7 linked regions of the Homo sapiens genome follow. The protein of the gene in region 1 purifies or fractionates together with the protein of each later gene. This does not show direct contact. Each region holds a gene or a part of one and is shown in the gene's direction. Other genes may lie near its edges. The genes, in order: IPO5, PREP, MACIR, SMS, TNPO1, FBXO33 and AHCY.

What was found.
Region 2: the proteins of IPO5 (region 1) and PREP fractionate together in Homo sapiens (co-fractionation; one large-scale study listed by BioGRID). This does not show direct contact.
Region 3: the proteins of IPO5 (region 1) and MACIR purify together in Homo sapiens (affinity purification with mass spectrometry; 2 studies listed by BioGRID and IntAct, with this or other methods). This does not show direct contact.
Region 4: the proteins of IPO5 (region 1) and SMS fractionate together in Homo sapiens (co-fractionation; one large-scale study listed by BioGRID). This does not show direct contact.
Region 5: the proteins of IPO5 (region 1) and TNPO1 fractionate together in Homo sapiens (co-fractionation; 2 studies listed by BioGRID). This does not show direct contact.
Region 6: the proteins of IPO5 (region 1) and FBXO33 purify together in Homo sapiens (co-immunoprecipitation; one study listed by IntAct). This does not show direct contact.
Region 7: the proteins of IPO5 (region 1) and AHCY fractionate together in Homo sapiens (co-fractionation; one large-scale study listed by BioGRID). This does not show direct contact.

The regions. Positions count from the first base shown.
Region 1 is NC_000013.11:98,005,675-98,009,174, forward strand, and holds part of IPO5 (importin-5), read left to right. Parts: intron 1-455; coding exon 456-674; intron 675-2,384; coding exon 2,385-2,468; intron 2,469-3,500. UniProt on the Homo sapiens protein: Functions in nuclear protein import as nuclear transport receptor. Serves as receptor for nuclear localization signals (NLS) in cargo substrates.
Region 2 is NC_000006.12:105,393,083-105,396,582, reverse strand, and holds part of PREP (prolyl endopeptidase), read left to right. Parts: intron 1-3,500. UniProt on the Homo sapiens protein: Cleaves peptide bonds on the C-terminal side of prolyl residues within peptides that are up to approximately 30 amino acids long.
Region 3 is NC_000005.10:103,261,763-103,265,262, forward strand, and holds part of MACIR (macrophage immunometabolism regulator), read left to right. Parts: intron 1-2,131; exon of another isoform or gene 2,132-2,244; intron 2,245-3,500. UniProt on the Homo sapiens protein: Regulates the macrophage function, by enhancing the resolution of inflammation and wound repair functions mediated by M2 macrophages. The regulation of macrophage function is, due at least in part, to its ability to inhibit glycolysis.
Region 4 is NC_000023.11:21,975,209-21,978,708, forward strand, and holds part of SMS (spermine synthase), read left to right. Parts: intron 1-1,852; coding exon 1,853-2,028; intron 2,029-2,751; coding exon 2,752-2,906; intron 2,907-3,500. UniProt on the Homo sapiens protein: Catalyzes the production of spermine from spermidine and decarboxylated S-adenosylmethionine (dcSAM).
Region 5 is NC_000005.10:72,886,161-72,889,660, forward strand, and holds part of TNPO1 (transportin-1), read left to right. Parts: intron 1-909; coding exon 910-1,062; intron 1,063-1,917; coding exon 1,918-2,143; intron 2,144-3,500. UniProt on the Homo sapiens protein: Functions in nuclear protein import as nuclear transport receptor. Serves as receptor for nuclear localization signals (NLS) in cargo substrates.
Region 6 is NC_000014.9:39,429,634-39,433,702, reverse strand, and holds the start of FBXO33 (F-box only protein 33), read left to right. Parts: upstream 1-1,269; 5' UTR 1,270-1,540; coding exon 1,541-2,139; intron 2,140-4,069. UniProt on the Homo sapiens protein: Substrate recognition component of a SCF (SKP1-CUL1-F-box protein) E3 ubiquitin-protein ligase complex which mediates the ubiquitination and subsequent proteasomal degradation of target proteins. Probably recognizes and binds to phosphorylated target proteins.
Region 7 is NC_000020.11:34,289,856-34,293,355, reverse strand, and holds part of AHCY (adenosylhomocysteinase), read left to right. Parts: intron 1-848; coding exon 849-998; intron 999-1,824; coding exon 1,825-1,937; intron 1,938-2,417; coding exon 2,418-2,625; intron 2,626-2,717; coding exon 2,718-2,805; intron 2,806-2,906; coding exon 2,907-3,024; intron 3,025-3,500. UniProt on the Homo sapiens protein: Catalyzes the hydrolysis of S-adenosyl-L-homocysteine to form adenosine and homocysteine. Binds copper ions.

The DNA.
Region 1 (3,500 bases):
TGCGATCTTCTGGGGAGAGGGGGTTAGAAGATAAAGGAAGGGGCCAAAGAGGGAATTTTCTTTATGACGTAGTAAGACAGCACAAAATATAATCATAAGTAGAGGAAATCAGTGAAGAAAAAAATGAGGATGAAGTGTAGGCATTAAAGTTGATGAACACAAAAATTTTGATTCCGTATCTGTACTCAAGAATTAGCTGTGCTTTGAGATGAGACTAACATGAGTTAGAGGTGTTGTGTTAATAGAAGAGAGAAAAAAAAAATCTCACATAAATAGTTCAACATAGATTCTTTTTATAGAAATTTCCTCCAAAACCTACAGTCTCTGCTTCTGGAGAGGTGGTCTCATTCTGCTGTTTCAGAAAAGCATTCAAGAACTTGAAGGGAGTAGTAATTGTAAATTTAAATACTTCTTCCAGTTTTCCTTTGAGGTAATAATTTGTGTCTTCCTTCTAGCTGATTCAGAAAGGCACCAAGTTAGTTTTGGAACAAGTTGTGACATCCATTGCATCAGTTGCCGATACTGCAGAAGAAAAATTTGTCCCCTACTATGATTTATTTATGCCATCACTGAAGCACATCGTTGAGAATGCGGTTCAAAAAGAACTGAGACTTCTGAGAGGAAAAACTATTGAATGCATTAGCCTCATTGGTCTGGCTGTTGGGAAGGAAAAAGTAAGTAATTTTTTTTTTTTTTTTTTTTTTTTTTTTTTTTTTTTGAGACAGAGTCTCGCTCTGTCACCCAGGCTGGAGTGCAGTGGCACGATCTCGGCTCACTGCAAACTCTGCCTCCCAGGTTCATGCCATTCTCCTGCCTCAGCCTCCCGAGTAGCTGGGACTACAGACGCCCGCCACCACGCCCGGCTAATTTTTTGTATTTTTAGTAGAGACAAGGTTTCACTGTGTTAGCCAGGATGGTCTCAATCTCCTGACCTCGTGATCCGCCCGCCTCGGCCTCCCAGAGTGCTGGGATTACAGGCGTGAGCCACTGTGCCCGGCCTGTAATTTCTATTATGTTAAATTTACTGTACCTAACTTGGCTGTGGAGGCATTGAGAGTACTAGAGGGATTTTTTCCTTCTGAAAAATGGTTTTCTGGATGCTTGTTTTTTTCCTTACTCCTTTCACATTGCTCCTGTTTTATATACAAATTCTTGCCTTCATCTTTTCATTGTTTGTTTGTTTGGTTTGGTGTTTTTTTTTTTTTTTTTGAGACCAAGTCTCACTCTATCACCCAGGCTGGAGTGCAGTGGCATGATCCTGGCTCACTGCAACCTCTGCCTCCTGGGTTCAAGCGATTCTCCTGCGTCAGCCTCCCAGGTAGCTGAGATTACAGGCACCTGCCACCACTCCCAGCTGATTTTTGTATTTTTTTTTTTTAGTAGAGATGGGGTTTCACTGTGTTGGCCAGGCTAGCCCTGATCTCCTGACCTCAAGCAGTCTGCTCACAGGTGTGAGCCACCGCGCCCAGCCCGTCTTTTCATTGTTAATATTAAGGTTTCTTTTTAGCTCAGCTGTGCTCCTGATGCCTCCTCCTTTCCCCACCACACACAGTGCATCTCGTGGGAGGTGTGTGGAAGTCAGTATCCATGTTCGTTCCCTTTAAATATGTGCTTGGAAACATGTCACTTGCTTTCCTATTAATCTAAAATGCATCAAGTGTTCTAAGAGAGAAATCTATGCATATAGATCTTCAGAAAATAATTACCAAGGACCATTGGCCAGTGTGTTTCTCAGCCAACATCTCAGAATTGTTCAAGCTAATGCAAAAGAAGTTTCTCTGTCATTGAATCCTCATGTTCTGACCCTGAGAATTATCAACAGAGAAGCTCTGTCTTGCCTTCTTCAAAACCAGCATCAGTATTAATTTATATTTGGAACTGGTTTCTGTGAGACGCTGACCACTAAAACATTGGTATGTTTTTTACCAATAAAATATTTGTATGTCCCATACTCTATATATCTGGCTTTCAATGTCTCTTTAAAACGCTGCCTGTTTATACAATGGAGATTACCAGAACTGCAAAGAGTTAAGTGAAAATCATAGACAAAATTTTATGCAGTGAATTCTATAAACAATCTAAAATTTTCTTTCTGAATTTGAATTCAGTTTTACTGCTTGAAATGCGTAAGCCATAGACTAACACCTGATGCCATTAGAAGTACCTTTATACTGTAGTTCCCTGCCCTTCAGTGGAAAATATATTTTTCTAGAAAGTGAACTAAATCTGTCACAATATAGATGAGAATTTTTCAATATGATAGTTTATCTATGAAAGTTATGACCTATGTGGGCAATGTAGTCGATTTTTTGGCAAAGCTTTGCTAATTACACAAGAAACAAAATTCGGTATCAACAAGTGTGTCTCTACATATTTTCCTCTAGTTCATGCAGGATGCATCAGATGTGATGCAGCTTTTGTTAAAGACCCAGACAGACTTCAATGATATGGAAGATGATGATCCTCAGGTAAGTGGTCTTAATGCATTTGCTTTGATCCGCTAATGAGTTGTGGACAGCACATGGTTCAATATATTTAAAACAAAAGGAGTGATAGGTTTCTTGACATACTATCAACCCCTGCTAGCAGAGACATTCTTCACTGATTTTCCTTCTGTTTCTCAAGCTACTTTTTCTCAGTCTGTTGTAGGTTGCTCTTGCTTTCTGTGACTCTCACTCAAGTTTTGGTGTTTGTGGGTTCTATCCAAGGCTCTCTTCTCACTCCTGTGGAGCAGTGTCACTCACAGACATGGCTTCCGGTTTCCTCTGTGTGCTTGCAACTTTCAGATCTTCAGAATTGAAGATTCATTTATCCAACATGTAATAGACATCTCCATTTGGGTGTCTCCTAGCCCTTTGAAGGCTGCATGATCTCCCTCCCCTGGCAGAAAATACAGAACCCAAGAATCTCAGGACACACTGCTTGCCTCTCCGCCAACGAACAGACAAAGGCATTTCATTAGGAGGAACCCCTGCCTCTCGACACACACGCACATACACACATAGGTATACATACCCAGCTAACGCTTGCTCACAGTTCTCATCCTTTACAAGATTTTCCTGATCTGCTCAGTCTCAATGGTGGGCAGTTCCAACACTGTTATAGTAACATCATAAATGTTTGTCATATCTTGATGGTATTCCCAATGCCTAACATATAACAAGGCACTCAATAAATAATTGTTGAATTAAATTTTGACTTTACATTGCCACACTGTAATAGTTTAAATAGGAAAACATACCATTTTGCAAAGAAAGCATGTTTTGTTGTTGTTTGCTTTCTTTGCAAAATGATATGCAAATATACATGTATGTTTTGTATGTACAGAGATAACAGGCAGGAGGGATACTTAGCAGACTGCTGACAGTAGGGAGACTGAGGGGACTGTAAGCTGTAGGGAGGGGTGGTAAGGACGAGGCGTGTTGCTCACCTTTGTATCAGCCAGCATATAGTTTAATGCCTGGCATGTGAGAAACACCCAGTACCTATCTGAAGAGCGG
Region 2 (3,500 bases), on another chromosome or scaffold:
GAGACCTGAATTCAGATTTGCCAGGAAAGCATCCCTTCCTGATGTAGAATTGCCCATCTCCCCACTGGGACAAGGAAAGGGATGGAGTGAAGAGCTTAGCCAGAGCATGATGGTATATGGAGAAAAGAGAGAAAGTAGAGGCAGGGGAGTAAACCACATGATCATCTCTTTCTTCTTCCTTTAGTCTCAAGCACTGGCTCACCTGCTTTCTGCTATCCTCACCTGTTCTTTGTGAGTAGTGTCTCTCCTTTGCCCACTGCAAAGCTCTTACAACTTCTTTTTATCCTTTGTCCCTAAAGTAAGCACACTGCTATTTTGAGATTTCCTAATGGTTTTTACTTTTATCTGCAATCCTACATTCTTTCTCTAACTCCCTTCAAGAAAGACAAAGATCTCATGGATGAGAATGGTTGATATTTGGGGTTTAATTTTTCTTTCCAGAAGCACTGGGTTATAGTAGTGGATGGGCAGAAATTCCAAAGTGAGAAACACCTGAGTATCTTTAGGAATGGTGAAGGCTGTAGCTCTGCAGGTAAGTCTGAGGGGACAGAGAACAGGTGTGGGGTTACCTCCCCACTTCATCCCTGCCATAGATTACCTTGATTGTTCAACACTGGGCTGACTGAGACAGAGGGATTGGGTCTGGGAGTGGAGAGTCACATGCACCTGCATAACCTGTACTGGCTAGAAAGCACCAGGGAAAGGATGAAGTTCCTGTGCATCTCTTGGAAAACTGTCTCTAAGGACCTGATGATTTCTTCACCTGAAGTATCGGCTATAACCTGGATTTCTACAGCCTTTGATGGTGATTGAGTGATTTAGCACTGTCAAAATGACCCAGGTTTTATCTGTTAGTGAATGTATACTTTGCTGTTCCTTAGTTGATAATGACAGGTTCGTGGATGACAAGCCACTTATTAGTGGATATCAGGCTTCCAATTAGTGGATGAAACTGCTAATTAATGATCTTATAGTCAGCACTTGATAGAAACTAAGACATTGGAGTATACACTATTTTTGTGGTATACATTTCTTGGATGGTTACCATGTGCCAGGCACTTTACCGGGAGTTCTGCATTCCCTGTTTCATTTAATTCTCAAATTCTGAAATATATCTTTTTATTTCCCCCATTTTACAGATGAAGAAATTGAGGTGCTGAGTGATTAAATATGTTGTCCATGGCTACTCAGCTAGTAAGTGTGTAGTCAAGGGTAACCCAGGTAGACGAGGTGGTTATCAATTACACATTAAAAAATAAGTAAAAGTAAAAAGACTGGGTGTAATACTTTGCAGATGCGAGCTAAAGGAATGTATTCATGTCTGTGCTTGCCATGTGCCTTTGTAGGCCCTCAGGTGTGAACCCTGGGCCAGCCCCCACTCCCATGCTGACCTGTTCTTTTTTAAAATATATATATTTTTTAAATTGTAATAATTCAGAGTACTGTGATCTTACATCCTTCTCTGACTTCATATTCTACCATGGCAATTTTTCATGTTAGAAAGCAATCTTTGCAGCCCAGAATTTTAATAGTGATACTATTTCATCAGGCAGATGCACTATATTATGCCTAATGACTTCTGTTGGAAATGATTGTTTTCAACTTTTCACTATTACAAATAATGTCCCAAATGTCCCAAACAAGCACTTTTCTAGATCTCCACATTTCTGACAATGACATGATTACTTGTTGCAGTAGCCTTGAAATCTCTTCTCCATTCTCAGGTATTTGCTTTTTGTCGTTGCTATCAAATGGGTTCCTTTTTCATTATTGATGGCATATACAAGTGTTACTGACTCTTTTGTTAGAGACAGGGTCTTGCTGTTGCCCAGGCTGGAGTACAGCCATCTTCTGGGCTCCAGCCATCTTCCTGCCTTAGCCTCCCAAGTAGCTGGGACTACAGGCGCACACCACCATGCCTGGCTAAACTAGCTACTGCTACCGATTTTATATTTATTTTGTACCTAGTTCCCTTACTGAACTCACCAAATTTTCAGTTATTTCCCTTAGATTTTTAGATACATAATCATATAACATATAATCAAATTTAGTGATAATTCTATTTTCTCTTCTATCAAACTTTGGTTATTTTATATATTTTGTACCTAGTAATTTTTTTGAACTCACAGATTTGAATAAGTTTTCAGCTATTTCCCTTAGGTTTTCTAGATACATAATCATATCATCTACAATCAATTATTATTTTCTCCTCTACCAAATTTCGGTTCAGGTCTTATTGAATTGGTCAAAGCTCTGCAAAACATGTAAGAATAGTAGTGAGAAAGAACTTTCTAGCCTAGTGTTTAAATTGTTATTTTGAATGATATTTGTCATCTTGTTTAAGCATTGTTATTCCTACTTTTAGTTTTGGATTTTGATTTCTTTTTAATACCAATCAGGGTAATTATATAGCTTCACTAATATATTAATATTAAAATGTCCTTGAATTCCTGTGATAAAATTCCATTTTTAATCTGTTTTTATGTTCCTTACAACTATATTTACAAGAAAAGTTGGTCAATATCTTGTTATCCAATATAATAACCACTAGCCACTTGTAGCTCCTGAGGACCTGAAATGTGGCTAGTCTGAATTGATTACATGTTGTAAGCATAAAATACATGCTGGATTTCAAACACTTAGTTTGAAAAAAAAAAAAGTAAAATACCTTAATATTTTATATGGATTACATAAAACCAGTCAGGACATTAGAAACATCTGTAGCTCTCTTATAAGATCTGAAATAGAGTTTCGATTTAATCTAGTATTTAATACAGGTTGGCCAATCCTGCCACTGCCTAGCATTTAAGGCTATATCCTTTATAAAACAAAATCAGAGAAGACTTGTAATGGAAAATTCTCAAAAACAGAGTTGAAATGATTTGTGTGTAGTGGATTAAATAAAATATATTATTGAAATTAATTTTTTTTTCCTTAATGTGGCTACTAGAAATTTTTAAATTGTATATGTAGCTTGCATAATGTATCTACTGGACAGCGCTGCTCCTCTGTTTCTTTACAAAATATCTCTGTTAACATATTTCATATCAGCGTTAGATTTGCTTCAGAGAATCAACTGAATTGTGTGTTGCCTTGTACAGTCTGAAGCATTTGCTATAAAATAGCAATATGGGCCTTGACAGCTAGAAAAGATTCATCCAGATTCAACTCTCCCTCTACCCCCTGCCCCGCCCCTGTTTTTGAGAATTTTCTGTTACAAGTCTGCTCTGGTTTTGTTTTATAAAGGATATAGCCTTAAACGCCAGGCACTGTCAGAATTAGCCAACCTAAATTAAATACTAGATTAAATCCAAGACCTACTGGTAGCATTTCAGATCTTATAAAAGAGCTACAGATGTTTCTCACTTCTTGAATGGTTTTTATTGGAAATGTAATAAGCAGCTTTTTGTTTTAGAAGCTCTGTAAAGATTCTCCTCTTTACAGCAAGGTATGGCTAATACACCTTTGTGTATATGCTAATAATGTGAATAGAAAATGTT
Region 3 (3,500 bases), on another chromosome or scaffold:
TAGGGCCATGAAAAAAATGAAAATAAATGTTTTGATAGCTAGAATTAGAACTCACAGCTTCTACTGTACCAATTTCTCTGCCTAAAATTTGTCCTTTCATAATATAAACTTTAATGATGAATGTGATTTTTATTTACCAATATTTGAAAGGGCTATGTGCTGGTCCTCATATTTATAGTCTTATGATTTGTGATCAATGTTGTTAAATTTTTTCTTACTGCTGTTTTGTTAGTGATCTGTGCTGAAGCTTGAGATTCACGACTTTTTTGTGTGTTTACGAATTTTGTATGGACATAAACATTTCCAAATGGAGCTTTGTATATTTTTGGGAAAGGCACTCCCTTTTTTGGGTTCCTAGTGCCATTCAGGTTTACTGTTATTAGAAGGATTTATTTCCATGTCTGCCCTCCCCTCTGACCCAGTCTCAGGCCATCTCTTTATATGTGCACCAGTGCCTGCATAGTGTGGGGATATATAATAAGACTTAAGAAACATTGTTGAATGACTGAATAAGTGAATATCTAAGTGGGTACACCCGAAGAAAGAACTCAGACCTGTATGGGAATTCACCGTTCAAGCAGAAGGGTGTTTCCCTTTTTAAAAAAGTCATTGCCTTTCCATGTTGCTTTTGAGTAGGATAACAAATGAAACAGCCAAACTGAGACACTTTTGAGAGTTAAAGGGGGTTGCTTTCAATAATTATGCCAGGGTATTGACTATGAATTGAGATATATAGTCACTCTTCTTTTGAAAGGCATTCTTATTTACCTGTGATAATAACTATCACCTGAGAAATTCGATACATTTGGTAGTTAATGTTTGCAAACTTTTCTATTTGTAGAAGCTCCACTTGCAGTGAAATGTTGGGTGTCTTTTGCTTAGTCACCCATGACTTTCTTATCCAGAAGTCTGTGGGCAGCTCTTGGCCACTGCTTGGTTTTTTCCTATTTTTATTGCTTATGGGATAATGTCCCACTGCATTCTGTTTCAGCTTCTTATAACTGGAAGCATTTATTATATCTTGTAGCCTTTGCTCTATTTACTTCAGTCTTTGTTTTTATGCAGCATTTAGTCTATCTTCTAAGAATTTCACATGGATTCCTTTTCCTCTTGCTGACTGTTTTGGAGAGGAAATCTGTTGATATCTTTCCAAGCCTTCAGTGTTTAGAACATTGGCCAAAATCAGTTGCAAGCGTTAGAGAATTATAGATTTTTAAAGTATTCTAAAAATGTGTGTTATTTGAAAGGTACATGTTTTGGGAATTTTTATATTACAATCTTTTAATTGTTATAAGTGGGAGATGGGGGTAGAACCCTTACTGTAATTTTGTAGTAGATTTCTTTATGGGTTATGTCTTAAAGAAAACGTATAATCTTATACTAGTTAGTTTCTGGTCTTGTTCTTTTTATTTATTTTTCCCTCTTTTTCACCATATACCTCCTCCTCCTCCTCCTCCTCCTCCTGCTCTTCCTCCTCCTCCTCCTGCTCTTCCTCCTCCTCCCACAAAGCAGGAAGCAGAGTCAAAATTAGAAAAAGTGAGAATGTAATGGAGCTTCTGCACCTTGGTTTTCTTGTGTTGCTCCCTTGGACATTGTGTTTATATTCTATTTTTGGCTTGGCACTGGCATAATAGGAATAATCAGTTACTACTCTTTGTTTACTATGAAATTACCGATCATTTCCTAGATTTACACATCAGCTCCAGTGCAAGAGTTGGGTAATGTCTTCAAGGCTCCTCTGCTTTCAAATCCAGACTAAAGTTTTAGTTGATTTCTTTCTTTTGATGTTGAAAAAGAAACTCTTTGAAAGTGTAAATATTTTTCTAATGCATTTAAAAGCTTAAAAAGAAGAATATGTCACCAAATACATGAGGCAAATTATATGAAAGTTTGAATGAGATTTAAGACTGTCAAAACTATTCTTTAGGATTAAGACATTCAGATATTTCTAATGTTCCTCCTGCTTGTTTTAAATTGACATTTATAAAAGTATAAATGAAATCTATCCCACTTTGTGATAGATGTAGTCTTGAGAAATAAAGCGGAAATATATAACTGTATTTGATATCCAACCATATAACCAGACGGTATTGGTTGATACCTTTTTTTCTGTCGCATAATTTATGATTTTAGAAAATAGAAGCTCATAGGAGAAAGAGTCCATGATTCAGAAGGATTTTGTATAAGACTTTCCACGATGTGCCACCAAATCTTAATATTTTTCAAGTTGGAAATAACCATGCAGCTAAGTAGTTCCCCCAACCATTTCACAAATGAGGCAATAAAGCTTTTAGATAAAGTGCCTACCCATACACTTAAAATAGATTTTCACTTATAGAAATTACTTGATATACATTTTGCGGGATCATGATTATTGTGTAAAAGGCTATACATGTTGTCTTATCATTGAACAGAGGCCAGAGTGTAAAGTAAATGATCTTTGGAGTCAGACCAATTGGGGTTCCAATTCCTGCTGTGACTCTCATGTAGTATCACTTAAAAGAGTACTTTAAAATAGGGCTACTACTAAAGAGTACTTTAAAAATGGGATAATAATATTTTCTTCATGGAGTAGTTAAGATTAAATGATATAAATTGTATATCACTTTTGACATAAGGAAGATGCTAAAGAAATGTTCGTTTTTAGAACTCCTCTTTCCCATTAAAAATCCATTAAATAAGAAATGCAGATGAATGTTATTAGTATTGGGGAAATTCTTTGGGATAATTATATTAAATAAACATTTTGTCTGTAGGTAACAATTTTTGTTACAATTTACTGTGTGTTAAAACCAGAGGCTTCATTGGTGGGGTAGAATCAAGGCTTACTTTTCAAGATTTTTTGGTTCCCCAATTTGAGAATAGTTGGTGGCAAAATACATGAAAGGGAGTGTTTCTGTTATCTACATCTGAAGAAGTTGCAAAGGCTGATAAACATGCTAGTTTCTTGGAGTGACAGTTCTTGGTGCATTGGCTCCTTCCAGTTTCTCAAGCTAAAGAAGCACATATTAAACTCAGTAATTATCTATTTCCTTTGGATAAAACTCTCCTGTACTGGTAGGGAAAGTAATAAAGTTACAAACTCCTTGCCTTTTTTCTTGCAGTTTGTCTTTTGTTTGATAAGGTATTGTACTGTTGACACTTCTTGGGCTCTGTGCACCTACATAGATAAAATGAATCTACTCGCTTCATTTGACACCCCTCCAACTGCTTCTGTTGTTTAACCCAACAGAAAACCAACAACCAAAGAAACTTTTACAGGTGGAAAAGGACTTTGGAGGGTTTTCCTCGTCTCAGCAAATTAACCCTATTAACTAGGGAGGTAGGAGATAAAGATAGATTCTCTTACACATTAACTTCCCAGGTAAGAGAGGGAAGGCACAGAGGAGATGCTAGAAACCTTAAGTAAGGTGGTAACTATAAAAAAGTGCTTTTTCAGTCACTCTCTTTTTTTGTTGTGTTATCCAAGAGACTTCTAATCATTTGCCTCGCATCAGTCT
Region 4 (3,500 bases), on another chromosome or scaffold:
TACCTCCTGGTAGCCCGTTATAGGGCTACCAGCGAGATGCCCTTTAATGCTAGGTTGAGCACTTCATCAGGGTAATGGCATTTACATCCTGTTAAGATCCTTCTTTCTTTGCTAGTCTTTAAAAAAACCATAGAGTTACAATGTAGGAAAGAGCTCTTCACCTTAGCCAAGGCACTATTGACACAATTGAGAACAGGCACTGTTTAGTTTCAGTGGGTTTGCCTGTAGTGCAGTAATTGCCGATAGGTGGCTGGCTGTCAAGGAGAGGGTAGTCTTCCTCCCCTGGAAGTGAGTGACTTTGTCGTTCATCCAATGCCATGGGTGGCTCACTCTCACCTCACTCCCCACCATCAGCCAGGGGTGGAAGAGGCTTCCTCCAAGTCCTGTTCGCCTGCTCTCTAGCAGTTGTCCTGATTGGTGCTTCACATTTTACAATTTACAAGAAAAACCCTCTAGAATGCCTCACATTCTGAAAGCTGAATTTGTTCACATGGAAGGTGAAGAAGTGGTTAAATGAAGAGTTGTCAGGATGACATGAATTTATGGGAGTTTGCCTTTTCAATCTCGGTGTTCTTTATAGATGTTAGTATTCCCTCATAGAAAGCCTTGTTAACTTGTAACAGGTTTAGACTGTACTCTTGGAAGCTGGTGAGCAGGGAAGGGAAAGAGACTCATAAGAGTACGTCAGGCCGCATATCCCAGCATTTTACATGTCTACAGCTGTACATCATGGCGTTTTAATGTTGAACACTACTGTGTTTGAGAACACATGACTCACGCAGTTGTGTTATGTATGCAGTGAGCTCTCGTTTTCTTTGTGTTTGGGTTAGACTTGCCAAGCCCCTTTTCCAGGTCTTTTTTTTCCTGTCATTTAGTGTCCTCTGCTGGTACCTTCTAGTACATTCATCCTGTGAAAAATACCGGGTATTTACAAAAGAATGAATGAAAAAATCATCATTTTGCAGCCTCTGTAGTAGTAACTGGTTCAGGCCAGAATCTTCTGCATGCTAAAACCACTGGTAAAGGTTTGTTGGGGGGTGAGGACTTCTACCTAGTTTCAGAGCACCACCCCACAGCCTGCTTAGTAATTTCAGAGGGTGAAAAAGGTACCTTTGCAAATGGAGAGAGCCCATGAATACCACTTTAACCAAGTGATCACAGACTTAGCATCACCAATAATAGGACAGATACACATCTTGTGTTCCCGATGTGATGCCTGTGTAATATATGTCAACCTGATTCTAACCATGAAGAGTGAGAGATTATCAGGTAAACCCACGAGTCATTTTTCAGCAGAATAGCTGGTCTGTACTTGGAGATATCAGTGTCATGAAACATACCAGTAAAAAAAAAATTATACGTTACATGAGGATAAAAAAGAAAAAAAAAACAGGGAAATGCAGTGTATGAGCCTTTATTCAAGAGCAGAACATCTATAAAGGATATAACTGGGGACACTTGAAGATGGACTCTGTACTAGATAACCATATCATACCCATGTGAACTGGTGTAAATGTGGTAATGTCCATGTAGTTATGTAGATAGTCTTAAGAGACAGATGCTGCTGGAGCATTTGAAATATGAAGTGTGCAGTGGCCATCTTCTCCTTCAGCTTTTTGTTAGAGAAAATCTAAAGCATGACAGGATTTTTTAAAAAGTGAACTGTGTACAATAGTTGTCAACATTTGGTGGTGGCCGTGATTATATAAAACTAAAAGCCCAAGCTTTGGATTCGTTTTGTGCTTGTCAAAAGTCGGCAGTCATGTGGCTTTCTTTTGCACACTCTTCATCCTAGCTCCACTTGTAAGGCAGTGTTCTAGTAAGGTACATTTCTGTTTTTCTCTTTTTCCAGATTACCACCCATAGTGCGAGGAGGAGCCATCGACAGATACTGGCCCACCGCCGACGGGCGCCTGGTTGAATATGACATAGATGAAGTGGTATATGACGAAGATTCACCTTATCAAAATATAAAAATTCTACACTCGAAGCAGTTTGGAAATATTCTCATCCTTAGTGGGGATGTTAGTAAGTATTCCATCCCTGCCCCGATCACGTAACAAAGTGGTGATGTGTTGAATGATGGTGTTTTCCTGACAATTACTACTGTCGTGGATTTGTTTGAGTTTGTTTTTGACACTGCTGGTTTTTGAGATGCACATTTATGTCATATTAACCTGTGGATTGTCTGGGCTTTCACATAAACTTTGTCTTGACATTGCTTCCTTAGTGATGAGTATTTGGATTGTATTTCAAAAGAAAATGCATTTGCATATTTAAAAAAAAAAACCTTTTTGTTACAGAACAATTCAAACCTAAGTAGACAAACTAGTGTGATGAACCCACATGTACTTACCATCGAGTGTGAACAATTACCACCTCCTAGCCAGTCTTATTTTACCTAAACCCCAGTCCACTTTGTCCCTCTCATATTATTTTGAAGCAGCTCACAGACATCATATTATTTCATTTGTAAAGATGTAATTGCTTTTAGTTATTCGGTATATTGACACATTTTTAAGGCTGGATTTTCTTCCCACTGACTAATGTCCATTTGTATTAGGTGTCAGATGATCAGGGTTGATGAAAAAGTCCTCAATGGAAAAAAAGCTTGCAAATTGTTCACAGTTTTAAAAAATTGAAAATGAAAAATTTACATTTTGGTCTAGATCCCAGCTCTTCAGTGTGGTGGGGCCAGGTGGTTTGTGTGTTAAGGTAGACTCACCATTTGGATCTGTTTCTCCTCCCTAGATTTGGCAGAGAGTGATTTGGCATATACCCGGGCCATCATGGGCAGTGGCAAAGAAGATTACACTGGCAAAGATGTACTCATTCTGGGAGGTGGAGACGGAGGCATATTGTGTGAAATAGTCAAACTAAAACCAAAGATGGTCACTATGGTAGAGATATCCTTTGTTGTATAAGAGAACAAGTTCAGTGGGCTTCTTTTGTTTCCTTCCTTCAGTGTCTCACAACTCAAATTAATGTTACCACAGACTAGAGGCAAATGTGTTACCTAGACTGCCTTGAACAGACAATTTAGTAACAGTACCCTTTTATGTGGCCATCAACAAAGAAATAATCAGCTGGGCACAGTGGCTCATGCCTGTAATCCTAGCACTTTGGGAGGCCGAGGCGGGTGGATCACCTGAGGTCAGGAGTTCAAGACCAGCCTGATCGACATGGCGAAACCCTACCTCTACTAAAATTACAAAAATTAGCCAGGCATGGTGGCGGGCACCTGTAATCCCAGCTACTCGGGAGGCTGAGACAGGAGAATTGCTTGAACCCTAGGTGGCAGAGGTTGCAGTAAGCCAAGATTGCGCAACTTCACTCCAGCCTGGGTGACAGTAAGACTCTGTCTCAAAAACAAACAAATAATCTACCTAGTTGAGGATTAAAGAGCAAAGGACTTTGATACTGTGTCTGCTGCCTAGCAGTTTCCAAAATGGCTTCTCTAAAGCCATCTCATGAGGAGAAAAGAAGATTAAGTTCCTTTT
Region 5 (3,500 bases), on another chromosome or scaffold:
TGTTGTTCTTTTTGATTTTGTTGCTCTTGTCTAAATTATTATTATAATAAAATCTGGGTTGATTTATAGTCCCATAGTTAATTCTTTGTAAAGAGTATTTTCTAGCATGCGTTATGTTTCATGTGCCAGTGACTTTTCTTCCAGTTTTTGTGTCTAAAGTCCAGCTAAGTAATTGTCTGTTTAATTCTAGATGATATACTGCTGGAAATGTTAAGTAGAGTTAATAATGTATGTTTTTTGCGTGATTGTAACAGTGATTGTAATCATGATTGTAATATGAGTGTATCATATTGAATGGTTATGTTAGAAGCACTGAATTGAGTGGCACAGTATTTGTTTTACTGTATAGACAGAATTCTAGTATGACAGTTATGTACAGAATACAATGTGTTCACAATTAATTTGCCAAGTAAGTTCTTGTCATAAAAAATATTCATCTTAATAGAAAATGTTTTTGGCTGGGCATGGTGGCTCACACCTGTAATCCCAGCACTTTGGGAGGCTGAGGAGGGTGGATCACGAGGTCAGGAGTTTGAGACCATCCTGGCCAACATGGTGAAACCCCGTCTCTCCTAAAAATCAGCTGTGCGTACTGGCACACACCTGTAATCCCAGCTACTCAGGGGGCTAAAGCGGGAGAATCACTTGAACCTGGGAGGCAGAGGTTGCAGTGAGCCAAGATCGCACCACTGCACTCCAGCCTGAGCGACAGAACAAGACTCCATCTCAAAAAAAAAAAAAAAAAAAAAAACCACAAAATGTTTTCACGTGACAAACTACCTCCTATTCAATTGAATTCTTATTTTAAAACTCCGTATTAGAGATACGAATAAAATGTTACATATACAATAAATAATATATAAGTAATAAGAGGTTAATGTAATATTTTTGAATTAAATATTTCCTTAGGAAAATGTTCTGCTGCTGCCCTGGATGTTCTTGCAAATGTGTATCGTGATGAACTGCTGCCACATATTTTGCCCCTTTTGAAAGAATTACTTTTTCATCATGAATGGGTTGTTAAAGAATCAGGCATTTTGGTTTTAGGAGCAATTGCTGAAGGTAAGCCTAAGTCCAGTTTGAATTATGTAAGTTGGCTTCTTACTACTATTAGGTACTAATAAGGCTAGGCTACTTTAAGGAATTTCTATTTTGAACCAGATAACTAGTATTAAACAGCCATAGGCCGTCTTCTAACCCCAGCTAGATATTTTGCAAAATGTTTTTGTTATAATAAAGGTAACAGAGGCCAGGCATGGTGGCTCACGCCTATAATCTCAGCACTTTGGGAGGCTTAGGCGGGTGGATTACCTGAGATGGTTTCAAGACCAGCCTGGTTAACATGGCGAAACCACGTCTGCTAAAAATACAAAAATTAGCTGGGCGTGGTGGCATGTGCCTGTAGTCCCAGCTACTTGGAAGGCTGAGGCAGGAGAATTGCTTGGACCTGGGAAGTGGTAGTTGCAGTGAGCTGAATTCGTGCGATTGCACTCCAGCCTGGGTGACAGAGCAAGACTCCATCTCAATAAAAAATAAAAACAAAAAAATTAAGGGAACAGAATGAAAGGCTCTGATGTCTGAAGCATCCCCATTGCTTTAAAAAAAAATCCTTGATTCTTTAGGTAAGTATAGGAAACACAATAAGGCAAGACTCTCTTCATTCTCTATGAAGGGTTATTATTGATTTTGTCCTGGCAGTAAACATCTATTAGAAGAAATTGAAACACTGTAAGATGCTTGGGAGCAGGTAGCTCTAACTTCAGGGTTTTAAAAATAATTTTGGTATAGGTTATTGTAGTATGTGTATAGCAGTAGAAATATTCTGAATTTTTTCATAGATACGTGTTTTATTTTCATAATCAACCAAAATAATGTTAACTAAATTTTAGCATTTTGAAAGATTTATTTTTTTTCTAGGTTGCATGCAGGGCATGATTCCATACTTGCCTGAGCTTATTCCTCACCTTATTCAGTGCCTCTCTGATAAAAAGGCTCTTGTGCGTTCCATAACATGCTGGACTCTTAGCCGCTATGCACACTGGGTGGTCAGCCAGCCGCCAGACACGTACCTGAAGCCATTAATGACAGAATTGCTAAAGCGCATCCTGGACAGCAACAAGAGAGTACAAGAAGCTGCCTGCAGGTGGGACAGATTCATAACACAGTGTTCTTTGTGGCAGTGAAAAACTTAATTTTCAACCTTCTGATGGAGTGTTGGTGTTAAACCTATAATGAAGTGTTTCGTAATTGAAAATTTTCCAGTTATATCAGAAAGCTTAGTTTTCTTTTTTCTTCTTGGTGAAGTGTTTTGCAGGATCTGTAGCTTTTGGGTTTGCATATTAGCGTATTTTATACATTTTGTTTGGCCAGGAGAATTTTGTCATGTGGGTTTTACCTGATGATTTTGTAGATCTAAATGTGACAACATCGATCTTAGCTGTTTCTTCTTTGGCTCATTTTTCCCACTCAGTGGTTATTATAACAGAACTATCTTACACCCTAATTCCCTCAGACATCTGAACTAGTGATGGCAGGACTCCTACTCTTGAAGGAATAACAACGTTTGAGCAGATTGACATCCTTAGACTACAGGTCAACCACCATAACTCAGAAAGTCCCACAGGGACCTGTGGTCTGTCACTTACCAGTTAAAGGTCTTTGAGTGCTTAGTAGTTCTGCTCTAGTAGCCATTCTATTGGTTGGTTTGGTGGCTGTCTCTTTATATCAAGCCAGCAGTTGCTTTTATTACTACAAATATTCCAGTTTCCTGCAATATACCTTTATATTTTAAAAGGGCCTTCTGCTTATGTTTATAGTTCTTAATTTTTCGAGTAGGTTTGCTTTTACCATTGACCTTGATAGTAGGAAAAAATAACTGTTGAACAAAAAAAAGGAAAATTTTATTTTATTTTTTTTAGATGGAGTCTTGCTCTGTCGCCCAGGCTGGAGTGCAGTGGTGTGATCTTGGCTTACTGTAACCTCCGCCTCTCGGGTTCAAGCAATTCTCCTGCCTCTGCCTCCTGAGTAGCTGGGACTACAGGTGTGCGACACCATGCCCAGCTAATTTTTGTATTTTTAGTAGAGATGGGGTTTTGTCATGTTGGCCAGGCTGGTCTTGAACTCCTGACCTCAAGTGATCCACCCATCTTGGCCTCCCAAAGTGCTGGGATTGCAGGCGTGAGCCACCGCGCCTGGCAGGGATAGTAAATTTGAGTTTGACCTTAATCCATCTGAAGCAGTCATATCTGGAAGATATTAAGGGAGGGAGGATATAGATTATGTTTGAGATCCTATAATTTATTCATTCAGTACCTCGGTTTTTTTTTTTAGCTATTAATTGTTAAGCATATACTAAATGCTGAGTTTACATAAAGTCCCTGCCATCTTGAGACTTACAGGTTAGTAGGAAATACAAAGCAGCAACATAATTATCATTTATGGCAAGTGCTATGGAAGAAATCGGTAAATAATTCACAGTGCTGATGACCAGGGCTTTCATT
Region 6 (4,069 bases), on another chromosome or scaffold:
ATAAGTAACCTATCACAATTGATAAACCACACCATGTTGTTGGCAACCTGATATGTGCAAGGCATTAAACGGAGAGCTTTGCCCTCAAAGGGTTAAGAACATCTAGAATGGGGGTCTCCTCTTTCGTCTTGGGAGCCCCCTCCGTCTGTCTCTGTAGTGGGGAGCTTCTTCCTTCAGCCTTCTTCCTTCTTTCTTGCCTATTAAATTCTCCGCTCCTTAAAACCAAAAAAAAAAAAAAAAGTCCAAAAAGTCTTGGTGTTTACCACAAAAGAACGATGCTATTCCAACATCACAGCCTCCCTAAAGCAACTCTCAATTATTACATAAAGAGGCAGCCTCCCTAAAGCAACCCTCGATTATTACATAAAGTCACTTAATCTTTTCTGACTTCACCACTCTTTGCAACCAGAGTTTACTTTGCAGTAGGCTGTGGTGAAGTTAGGGACATGGTTTGGAAAATCTAAGTTAGGGATACCAGGCAAAAAAAGAAGAAGAAGAAAGAAAAAAAATCAAAGCTCTGTCATTACTGTGAACTTTTCAACGAGAGCCTTAAATCTCAGCACAGGGAAAAGAGACCCTTCCTCAAGCCCTGGAGAAGAGGCTGGTCACAACCTGCGGATCTCAGATCCCTTTGCCAATTTTTTTCTCTCCCTCTGAATCCAAAGGGTGACGCTGTCCTCACTGCTTCCCCACACACCAGCGAGTGCGCGGAAGTCCACCTGCGTGGTTGGACCGAGGGGGCAGGTCCATTCGCGGCCTCCGCCACGCCCCACACCGCCCCTCCCGGCACAGCCCGCCGGGGTTAGCCCGCCCGTCCGCCAGCTCCCTCTCAGCGGCGCAATCTCAGGAATTCTTAACCCTACTCTGGGCAGGTGGGATGGCTGAGAAAGACCCTGCATGCCGCCACTTTGGCTCAGGGTCCTCAGCCCAAACTGAGAAACGTTTTACAAAGAAGCGTGACGACCTTTCGCACTAAACCAGAGTACCGCCACCTCCATCGACCGAGCGCCAAAATTAACCGACTTACAGATGTGACTGGGCGCAGCGGCCACCGTAAGGCGTAAGGGGTGCCAAGTGCCGGTTCCAGTCCCGCCCAGCCCCGCCCCGCCCCGCCCCGCCCAGCCCCGCCCCGCCCCGCGGCCTGCGTGCGTCAGAGATCACGTGCCGCGCCTCCCGTCCCTACAGGCAATCGGGCGCTCCCCTCTTCCGGAAGTCGCGCCGGTGCGCGCCGGACTCCTCCCACCAGCGGCGACGTCAAACTCAGCTCCTACCACTTCTCTGTCTCTGCCGACCGGCGCAGGGAGGGCTGCCTTTTCCTTACAGTACGCCTTGAGGCTTCCGGGCCGCTGAAGTTTACGAGCGAGGGCAGTGCAGTTACTCAGTGTGCCGGCCTCGGACGCACGTGAGTAGAGTTTGAGAAGACAGAGGCTGGCTCCCGGCAGGCCACGCCCGCAGAGGCCTTTCCCCCTCTCCACAACTTGTGTTCTACTTGGTTCCGCCGAGACCCACGACGGTTCCGCCCCCTTCTTCCTAGTCATTGATGTTGTTGTTCTTGTCAGTGCCGCAGCCCCGACCGCCGGGAGCTCGAACCCGAGCCGGGGCCGCCCGGGTGGCGCGGTGGCGGCGGCTGCGGCTGCAGCAGCTGCGACGGCTGCGGGGGCTGCTCCGGGTACTGCGGGGGCGGCCGGGAGCCGGCAGCCGGCGGCGGGGCCGGATGGCTCTGTGCGGGCAGGCGGCGGGCGCTGCGTCGCTGCCCAGCGAGCTGATCGTGCACATCTTCTCTTTTCTGCCGGCGCCCGACCGGCTGCGGGCCTCGGCCTCCTGCTCGCACTGGCGTGAGTGCCTCTTCTATCCGGCCCTGTGGCCCCAGCTCCGCATCTGCCTCCGCGTCTCGCCCGCGGAGCAGCCTCGGCTGGAATTCCTCATGCGCAAGTGCGGCTGGTTCGTGCGAGAGCTGCGTGTTGAATTCGCCGCCGAGAACTATCTGAGCGGCGGTGGCCCAGGGGACGGAGGTGGCGCGGACACCGGGACTGGAGGGGAGGAAGTCGAGGCCCTGCAGCTCTCAGCTCGTTGGCTGGAAGTGCTGCGCACCTACTTGGAGCTGGTGCTTTGCGTGCTGGTCAGCATCCGGAACAACAGGTAGGCTTGCCCTGAGCCCCGCCCCGCCCGGTAACGGGGGGTCGCTCCGTCCCCGCACCCCGACACAGATTCTGTGCATAATACGTGCCCGGCCAACTTCAGTGTTGCCTTCCTCAGTGACGGAGAGTGTTGGTTCTAACTAGGCGGTTTCCTTGAGCGGAAAGGCATAACGGGACTCATCACGATACTTTATAAACAGTGGTGGACGGGGTGTTTAACAGACACCACTTCTGGCGCCTTCCAGGCACTCATTCATCCTCTTGGTGGCCGTGGGATGGAGCTGACAGGCGCTGTCACTTTTCATTTTATATATGGGAGCGTTAAGACTGGGAGGGTGAGGCCTGTGGGTGAGCCTTGGAAGAAACAAAACATACACATAACACGATTTTCTGACTCTGAATCTGTTAGAAATAGTTCATGGTGAGGGAAGGAGTAGGTACTCATAGGACGCTGCCTAAAAGAAATTTTGTAACAGCCATTTTCTTACCAGAAATAGTTTCGGCTAACTGAACAAGGCCCGAAGAGGAGGAGGAGTGTTTGTTAAAGGGATTGGGGAAGAAGTTGATCTTCAGGGTTGAAAGTCCCTCCCCATACACCACCACACTCAACTTCTCCCCAGTAGTTCACCTAAAAGTAACAGTCGGGCGGAGGAGGCGGGCGGGCAGCGAGGGAGTTGGCCAGGGTCTGCAGAGGGTAAGCACATAACTGTTCTGGTTTTGCATCAGGACTTCACTGTAATTCCAGAACTAACGCCTTATATTCTGACCCAGTATCCCTCCCAATCATCATTTTTCTCCATCGCCACCTCCAAAACCCTATTAATTTAGATCTTCTTTATATGGATATTCTAAAGAACCTTACAGTAAAGCTCTTATTAGAAGAAAGTTTAGACGTTCACAAAAGGAGCACCTTACATAGTAAAAATACTTCAGCAGTTTCACATTCACTGTGTTGTTTGAGCCTCTCAGTGGCACTATGAGGCAGGGTAATGATAAATAACCCTGTTTTACAGAAAGGAAACTGACCCTTTATAGGATCAAGTGATTTGCACATTGCTGTACGGCATTGTTTTTCTCCGAAAGCGTGTCCTTTTGCAGTAAATATACTGAACATTATGTTGAACAAGGTTGAGAGCAGTCCCTGGTTTAATGCTAGGAGATATATATAGATATAAGGTTATATATATATATGTATGCGCCATTAATCTGTGTCTTAATTTAGAAGTCAAGAGATAAGTTATAGCTCCAAGTTGTATCTGGGATATGGCTCCATTATTCCAGTTGCCTGTGCGTTTCCACAGCTTTTCGCAAGACATTCTATTTCCTTACTTTGGTTTTATCTGGCAGGAGAGGCCATTGAAGCTAAAAACAGATTAGGTTAGAGACTTTCTCAGAGTTGAATGTATGGCTAGAGGACCAACTGACCCAAAAGTTGCAAAGTTTCAGTCAGTGAGCACTTACTAATGAGACCAAGGTTGAGGGTGAATTCAATGAGTGAGTACCAATTAGATTTTTCTGTACTGAGATCAAATTGCACTTTTATGCAACCATGCAAACACTGTATGTGCCTTTGACCCAAGTAAGAACAAGACTTGATAAGTGTCTAGTTCCTTTTAAGTATTTTAATAACTGGTTGGTTGGATGGGTGGATAACATACAGGCAAAATGGAGATATTTCACATCTTTGCTTTGTAGCTTAATTCTCCTGTCCTTCTCTTCCTTACCCCTACAATTTTTATTAGCATCCCAATCTGCTTCTCTATAAGGCCACCGATGCCTGCCCTTCTGGGTCAGCTATCACTTCTATGCAAAAACATCACACCCGTCATCCCTAATTTTAAGGTTTGCTTGTCATCTACTATTAGCATGGTGTTGTATGTCATGCTGCTTTGGTAGCATATTCATTCTGTTTGTCTCAAAATGTAGTGTAA
Region 7 (3,500 bases), on another chromosome or scaffold:
TGGCTCTGCTTGGCCAGCGTCCTTTGCTCACAAGAGGCTCCTGGGAACCCCACACCTGTGCCCTAGTCATGCCACATGGGAGGAGTGTGGGCTGGTGGTCAGTAGCCCTCAGTTCTGGTGTCTATTCTGGAATTTCATTTAGAGTGGCCCAAGTGCGTCTTAGCTCCTCTCTGGGCATCTGTAAGTGATGATAATGGTCATGGCTGCCTCACAGGGTTTCTATGAGGAAGAATGAGATGGGGTATGGAGGATTTAGAGTCATGTCTGGCAGAAAGCAAGTACCCCACACATGGTAGCTGCTCGTAGTCATTTTTTGGCCAGACTTTGCCTGAGATTCCCCCACACAGAGGCTGCTAGTGCTCCAGTCCTTTCAGTGCAGAGCAAACCCTGGATCCTGCCGTGTGGATCCTGCTGAGGGGGAGGCGTTGTGGGGTATCAAGCCCTGGTCACTCAGGGTTGATGCCTCAGTCCTTGGCGCCCAGGCAGAAGGGGATGGGAAAGGAAAGAATGATTTCCTGATATCTATATCTGGGGCGGGGGGCTGTACATGGCTTCTGTCTCACTTAATCCATACTATTGTGAGCCCTATTTACAGAGGAGAAGACTGAGGCTCAGAGAGGTGAAGTGATTTGCCCAAGGTCACACAGCTGGCAAGTGGCAGAGCCAGGGTTTGAACTCAGATCTATCTGGCTCCAAGTTGTGTCCTGACCACTGCTGAGTTTTCAGAGGGGCCGGAGGTGGCTGGGGATGGGAGTTGGGAAGGAGGTAGTTTTGGCTCTGCCAGAGTTGTTCCCTGGAGCAGGTACCAGTTGGGAAGTCCAGGCCCTGATGTGCCACTCACCCTCCAGTGTATGCCTGGAAGGGCGAAACGGACGAGGAGTACCTGTGGTGCATTGAGCAGACCCTGTACTTCAAGGACGGGCCCCTCAACATGATTCTGGACGACGGGGGCGACCTCACCAACCTCATCCACACCAAGTACCCGCAGCTTCTGCCAGGTGAGCAGGGCGGGGCAGGTGGGCTGGGTGCTGGTGGCCTGGGTGGGGCCTGTTTGCCCACATGATGGCCGCAGGCCTGGCAGGACTCCCATCACCTCAAGCAGCAGGATCTGGAAGATGGGAGGATGGCAGGCTCTGGCATTCATGCTGGGGCCTCCTGACTTCTGAGGGTGCGAGGCTAGGGCAGCTGAGCTGATGGCCCAAGGGCAGGCACAGACAGGGCCATGGTTGGGAATAGCTGGGAGGGAGCCAGCTTTGTTCAAAGCAGGTACGCAGAGTGCAGAGGCCCTGAGGCAGGAATGGCTGGAGTGTTCAGGAAACAGAAAAGAGGCCCACAGGATAGCAGTGAGCAAAGGGAGCCTTCACTGCGGGTATGGTGTGAACTTCGTGAAGACCAGATGTGTCAGGGCCTAATAGGCCAATAGAAAAGTGTTTGACCTGATTTGCAGAGCAAGGGGAAATAACTGGAGGGCGTTGAGAAGATTTCTCTGAGAAGATACATGTTAGAAATGGCTGCTGCATGGAGGATGGGTTGTGGTAGGGAGACTGGGAAGAAGCGACAGGGTCACGGACTAGAGCAGCGGCAGTGAGAATAGAGAAGCTGGGAGTTGTTCGGAGGCAGAGTCACTAGGCCTGGTGGTGGCTTCCCTGTAGGAGGGCGTTGGGGACTCCTCCCTCACGCGGGTCTGGGTGATTGGGGGGCCTGTGGGATCAGTCACAGAGATGGGAACCCAGAAAGAGGAATGGCTTTAGGGGGTAAAGATGAGGAATTTGCATGAGCACAGGTGTGGCATCTCTGAGGCTTGTCCTGTCCCCTCTTGTTTAGGCATCCGAGGCATCTCTGAGGAGACCACGACTGGGGTCCACAACCTCTACAAGATGATGGCCAATGGGATCCTCAAGGTGCCTGCCATCAATGTCAATGACTCCGTCACCAAGGTGAGCCGAGGGGCAGTGACAGCTCCCGCTACAGTGGCTGCAGCTCAGGACGAGGCCTCTGAAGAAGAGTGCCCAGGAAGGCTGAGATTAGGGACATGAAGCCCTCATTTGAGGGGGCAAAAGCGGTTATAGACAGGCTAATGAGTGCGTTTAAAAGGGGTGTCAGAGCTGGGTGTTAGGAGCTTTATGGCTTTGGGAAGAAGAGCTTTCAAGTTAAGCAAGGTCTTTGACCGGGCAATCTCTCCTAGTAACTGATGCCTAGGAAGGCTCCACACTGGCAGAGAAAGATTAGAGAGAAGCTCTTTGAGCCGATCGGGGTGAAGGGCTTGTGGGGGCATTGGGTGCTGGAGGGGTTCAGCCCAGGCCGGGATGCTTGGTGGGCCCATGATGCCTGGGCTCTTCAGAATACTCTGAGGCCAAGTTGTCCTGGCCCCAGGGCCTTGCCTGCCCCTATTGTCTCCTTACCCCCTTTCCTTTCAGAGCAAGTTTGACAACCTCTATGGCTGCCGGGAGTCCCTCATAGATGGCATCAAGCGGGCCACAGATGTGATGATTGCCGGCAAGGTAGCGGTGGTAGCAGGCTATGGTGATGTGGGCAAGGGCTGTGCCCAGGCCCTGCGGGGTTTCGGAGCCCGCGTCATCATCACCGAGATTGACCCCATCAACGCACTGCAGGCTGCCATGGAGGGTAGGATAGGGCAAGGGTTGGTTGTCAGCCACTGGGGCCAGAGGGAGGGGCAAGGCCACCGTAGATGACCCACAGCCACTGTCTCTGCACAGGCTATGAGGTGACCACCATGGATGAGGCCTGTCAGGAGGGCAACATCTTTGTCACCACCACAGGCTGTATTGACATCATCCTTGGCCGGTAGGTGCCAGATGGGGGGTCCCGGGGAGTGAGGGAGGAGGGCAGAGTTGGGACAGCTTTCTGTCCCTGACAATCTCCCACGGTCTTGGGCTGCCTGACAGGCACTTTGAGCAGATGAAGGATGATGCCATTGTGTGTAACATTGGACACTTTGACGTGGAGATCGATGTCAAGTGGCTCAACGAGAACGCCGTGGAGAAGGTGAACATCAAGCCGCAGGTGAGAAGCTCCCGCCTTGCCAGTGGGCTGGGCAGATGGGAGTGCAGAGGAGTGCTGGCTGCCAGGGAGGAGAGCTGAGGAGATGGTGGCAACCTGTGCAGGGGGATGGGGAGAAGAGGGCCTAGCATCAGAGCCAGCCAGACGTGGCAACCTTATCCTGTGGGCAGCCGGCATCCCTGAAGGTATCAGGCAGGTGAGCTGTATGTGGTGAGGCTGTAGTTTTAGAAAGATCACTCTAGCTACTGTGTGCAGAATAAAAGCAACAATGGCGGGTGGTGGGGAGAGAGGCTTTTAGAGGAGGCTCGTAGAATCCCTGCAGGGGATGATGGCAGCCTCAGCTTAGGGAGTGCTGGGGTGGATGGACGGCATGTGGGGTCAGGATGGAGGCAGAGTAACAAAGGACACAGCTTTGGCCGGGCATGGTGGCTCACACCTGTAATCCCAGCACTTTGGAAGGCCGAGATGGGCGGATCACC